Regions from separate parts of the Homo sapiens genome. Here region 1 is linked to region 2. A link means that fine-mapping ties the variant in region 2 to the expression of a gene that starts in the linked region. Tissue or cell type: whole blood. Region 2 holds a variant in brackets; the other region holds the start of a gene. All regions are shown on one strand. Distances are from middle to middle.

What was found. PIP is the estimated chance that this variant, and not a neighbour inherited with it, causes the effect.
Region 1: it holds the start of ETS1, and the variant in region 2 is fine-mapped to the expression of ETS1 in whole blood (TOPMed, PIP above 0.99).

The regions. Positions count from the first base shown.
Region 1 is chr11:128,586,425-128,589,111 of GRCh38, reverse strand. It overlaps ETS1 (ETS proto-oncogene 1, transcription factor), which reads left to right and starts at 1,554. Exons shown (of 10, transcript NM_001143820.2): 1 at 1,554-1,624. LOC105369565 (a long non-coding RNA gene) reads right to left here. Exons shown (of 5, transcript XR_948163.3): 4 at 2,152-2,687; 5 at 1-91. RefSeq lists a silencer at 1,395-1,601.
Region 2 is chr11:128,457,724-128,460,410 of GRCh38, reverse strand. ETS1 (ETS proto-oncogene 1, transcription factor) reads left to right here. Exons shown (of 10, transcript NM_001143820.2): 10 at 1-1,646. Among named protein-coding and RNA genes, the nearest start is that of MIR6090, 63 kb to the left of the region's middle. The variant C/T (reference allele first, on the strand shown) is at 1,393.

The sequences.
Region 1 (2,687 bases), 130 kb before region 2:
ACTCCAGACTTCAGAACCCCTTGACAGCCACACTGTACACCCTTATAGAGCAAGAATCCAAGTCTTCTCAACTTTGTTTTTTTCAATTATCCTGCAAACATAGTGAATACAGTTGTAATTAGTTATGATTGGTATAATTGACCGTGGGCTCTTTAAATGGGGCAGTGTGCTGAAATTGACTGGGTTACAGGGGCAGGCTGAAGCTTCCCTAGCTCTCTTCATAGACTTCTTTTGTAGCATGTATTACATTTTTGGGGGGAGATCGTTGATTTATGTGTCTGTCTCCTCACTACAATGCAAACTTGCTATCTTTCTAGTGCCTAGAACAGTGCCTGGCACAGGCAATTTATTAAACTAAAGTGAACCAATAGCATTACCTCTTCCTTACTTCCAAGTTAATGTGCAAAGGCAGAAGATGAGCAGTAAAATCTTGCTTTACTTACAATGTCATCTTAACTGCATTGCCAGCTTTATACAATGAAGGCTGATGATGATATGGCTCCAAATGACAGTTATTAGATTTTCAAGGATTTTCTAAGTTTGTATCTTTATTAAAAAGAGAAAGAAGCCAACTATGACAAATCTTAACTCCCACCTCCTACTCAAAGAAGATGGAATCTTTTAGGATAAAAGTCTTAGATTAAGCAGCCAAATACTGACTTCTCAAAAAAAATTGTAATAACTCCATTCATAGAAATGAGATTATGCTGTAACATTCTTACCATAGTCCTGAATATGTGAATAAAAGATGCTGTGTATTTTCACTTAGGACAGATGTAAGATTTTCATATTGTTTACATTTTCCCTAAATGAGAAATGTATGAACACTTCTGCCCTTTTATTCCTGCACCACGGACCATGAGTCAGGGCTGCTAAAAGTATCCTTATTTTAGAGATTGCCTAAAACCAGACTTATATGAAAAGGGGATTTTTAGCTTTACTTTTCAGAAATCCCAAGTCCATATCCAGTCAGCTCTCTTCCACAAAATTATTTTCTTTTCTTTAGAAAATATCACATTTCATATCAAGTTATTAGAGAGAAACGGGAAGCCTGAGCAGGTGACTGGGTGGTGGACGTCCTGTGTTTCTAAAGCAATCCCTTTCCCTCACCTGAGACCTTGCCTAGGTTAATGGGGGCTCCATTGAGAAAGTCAAGGAACATGAAGCATGAATATTTACATATTCAGCAGAGAGTAAATGCATCAGCAAATGATGAGGTGAGATACAGTGTTATCCCACTGAACTAGTTCCCTTTTGCTCATCTCCCTCCCTGTTACTCTCCAAGGCTGAGTTATATTCAGCTGAAGCACAATTTGAAGAATACGAAATAATGTGTGATTTGGTGCCACCACTGTCAATCAACAGTGCTTTCCACCTAGACTGCTGTGCCTGTGCCAGTGGCTGCTGTCCTGGTGCCAGGGGCAAGAGGAAGACTGCCTTTTTTCCAGCTTTCCCTGGCTTGACCACACCCCCCAATTTAAGGAGGCAGCTCTATTAGAAACATTATGGTCTTTGCATCCTCTTAAGCTACGGAGCAGAGGATTCCCGCAGGTAGTTGGAAAGAGACCACAGACTTTGAGGGAAGCTCACTCAGGATCTGCTCTCCGGCAAAGTAGTAAGTGAGGTGTGTGTCAGTTTCTGCCTAAAACTTTTCAGTCCATTTTCCTTTTCCTGCTTTAAAAAAATTTCTGTGGAATTAAAGAGTAAGTCGGTAGGGAGATTCAGGATACAAGTGAGTTTTCTCTTTCTCTTTTCACGTCTTTCTATATTCCCATTTAATTGTTTAACAATTTTCAAAAATACTTCCTAACCTCGTCAGAATAGTCTGAAAGCAAGACTATGTTTTTAAAAATGTTCCCTGCTTCACAAAAGTAAAACCATGCACGTTTTAGATACCCGTAGATTACTTGTCAGAAACCCTGATTTTTTTTTTTTTTTTTTGCAAATTGGAGCACTTCCAAAGAAATAAAGCTGTAGTTAAATATATAAATTTCTTTTTATTCTCTTTCACTCCTAGTAAATCTATTGTTTTACTTTTTTCTCCTGCTAGTAGTTTAATGAATTGCTTTTAATAGAGAGGAAATTGCTACAGGTTTGAATCTTGCTAGCCAAACTAGCCTGTTTGGTGTTTTTCTCTGTCTTGGGACTGACCTGCAGTTGTCCAAAGATCTACAAGTTCCTAAGTCTGTTGTTGAGACATGGTGTGGGTGTGGGCCGCGGTTGTCTCAGAGTTAGGGAGGTATTTCTTGTCCCCACGGTAGAGCTGGACTCAGTGGCAGGAGATGTCGATGGCAATTCCTCTGCATCCGGTGATTTTATCTGGCCGTGACACTTTGTATGTGACTCCTCACCCACCGTTAAAGGTCTCTGTTACCAACTTTTAAAGTAGTATTTTCTTCAGGCAAACTTAAAAGGGTGCTGGGTCACTGAAATCAATGCATTCTATTGCAGGATTTCTTTATCACCTTTTGGGTAAGTTTTTGTTTTTAATCTCAAGTCCATTTTCCTTCTTACTTTAGACCACTGCCATGCAACTGAGAAAAAAGTATTTGTTAAACAGCAGGAAATACCAATTCTAAAATGATAACTCCATCAGCTCCATTTGATTTGTAAAATTACTGATACTATAACTCTTTCATCAGTTGTGGTTTTGGGTTTGGTGGCCTATTTTTATCCAAAGAGAAAAC
Region 2 (2,687 bases):
CCAGATCCTCTTGCAGACCCAGAATTATCAGGAACATAGCTCTGTGATTCATGAGTGTCCCCATACTGATGAATTGGAGCATCCATATGGAAAGCAAAGGCAGAATTATCCCAGCTGTATTATTTTGATCTTTTGGATGCAGGTGCCTTAATGAAGCTCTCAAAATATTTTAGGAGCTGCTCAGGGAGTGTTGGGTGGAACTGTTTGGACTACATTGTTTTCTCTTAGATTATGTGATTTTTGTTGGGCACTGGCAAAAGGTGTGTGTGTGAATGTGTGCATGTGTGTGAATGTTGTGTGTGTGTGTGTGTGTGTGTGTGTGTGTGTGTGTGTGTGTGTTTGCAGACATGCAAAACTGCAGCTGAAATAATACCTTAGATTTCTAGGTAAGTCTTTCCACATTTCAATAATGGGTAAGAGTAGAACCAGGGCCGGGTATCAATTATTGCTTGCTGTTTGCAACCAGGCATAAAATCACTTTCTCAAATCATCCACCGTTCCTATTAAATTTATGCCGGAAACTCTCCTTCTGTGAGTATAACTCCTGCAGTTCCTATAGCAGATAAGATATAAGAAAGTGCCTCCTAGTGCTCCTCCGCCCGCTTGTTTGCTAAAATTCCCTTTCTCTCTAAGTCCACCATTTTCAAGATTTGTAGATAGTGTATTAGTTAAGACAGCTTTGTCGATCTGGCCAGATGTTTTTTCTCCTTTGTCCAAAGGCCAGAGACCATCCCAGGAAGAGTGGTGGGTGGTTTATACACTGGAAATGTTGCGTTTATGCTTTTTAAAAACACACGTTAACTTCAGAGGAAGGATGGGCAAATCTGGTCTAGCTGGGTGAAACCCTTATTTTCCCAGAGATGCCTTAACCTTTGTTGGTTTTGGCTTTAGGGTTCAGAGTCACTTTTGTTCCCTTCTCCATTCTGGAGAGGGACTTCCCCTACATAGAGCCCTGATTTTTGTGGCTGTGGGGATTGGAGGTAGCATTCAAAGATCAGATGTGCTTTTCCTCACTTTGGAGATGAACACTCTGGGTTTTACAGCATTAACCTGCCTAACCTTCATGGTGAGAAATACACCATCTCTCTTCTAGTCATGCTGTGCATGCCGCTTACTCTGTTGGGGTCTATATAAATTTGTTGAACTCTTACCTACATTCCAAAGAAGTTTCAAGGAACCATAAATATATGTATACATATACATATATAAAATATATATATTAAAATAAAATTATCAGGAATACTGCCTCAGTTATTGAACTTTTTTTTTTAAGAATACTTTTTTTTTAAGCTGAGAAGTATAGGGATGAAAAAGATGTTATATTGTGTTTGACTATTTTCCAACTTGTATTTTCATATAATTTATATTTTTTAAAAGCTGAAAATTTAGAAG[C/T]AAGATGAAAAAAAGGAAAAGCAGGTGCTTTTTAAAAATCAGAACTGAGGTAGCTTAGAGATGTAGCGATGTAAGTGTCGATGTTTTTTTAAAAAAAAATGCAAAAAAATTCTTATGGCGGAGTTTTTTGTTTGTTTATTTTAGTAGCTGATGCTGGCACATCATTTTGCTGGAGAGTTTTTTATATACTGTAGCCTGATTTCATATTGTATTTTAAACTGTGTGAAATTAAAAACAAAGAATTTCATTCATAATGCTGTGGCTTTGGCTTGATTCTTTCTTGTCTGGATCATGTATTAAAGCAGGACAAATCAACCAACCAGAGGCAAGCACAGAGGGATGCAGTTTAGTCTTTCTGATCTCACTAGCTCAGGACCATTGGAGATAAAGATTTCCTAATAAGGTGAGAAATATAACAGGAATATAGGGAAGTCATCGAACATCCCAATCTTTGAATATATTGTGTCATCCTTTGTGGAATGTCCCTGGCCTTGTCAGACCTCACTTCTTCATGTCCGAAGGACTAAGAGCCATGTGAAGGAAACGTTTAATGACTCAACAGATAAACATTTGATTTCAGCTACGTACCGTTCCTGATATGAATACAGAAAGTTGAACATCTTTAGTGGATCCTGTGGGAAATGAACAGTATTCTTGTGTCCACCACTGATACTAATTTTGCTCTATGGCAATTTGGGCCCTTCACATCCATCTCCTTGGCCCCAACTCTTTCACTGGGGCTGAAGATTGGGAATAATAATATCTGTCAGAACCCCTAGCAACACATGCCATAAATAAAATCATGTTTATAAGTGCTTTGGAGGGGAGTGCTTAGGAACACCTCATGCATGGTGCTTTTTCCTTGTTGCTGAAACTGTAGAAGGTGGATGTTTTTAATTAACACCAACATTTGCAACATGAATCCCAGCTCACAGCTGGAAAGAGAATTTTTGCTGAATTGTTCACAAAGAGAGCTCTGTTTTTGGAAAATCTGTTTCTTCAGGCCTGGAGCTTGAGGTTTGCTGAGTACATGTTAAGCACGGACTGTGTGGTCTGGTGGTCAGGGAGCAGGACTGGCCGCGAAGAAGGCTTCAGCCCCTCAATCCTGGTCAAGCCACCACCACTCACTGGGAGACTTTGGGAAAAATGGCTTCAGGTCCTTATATTTTGTTTTTAGTTTTCAGCTGCAAACCTGGGAAAAGCCACAACTCCTGAGCCAACCTGAGGCCACATTTGAACTCTTCTCCCGAATAAACAGCACACAGAGAATAGGTTTCTGCTTCAGTCAAGGATTC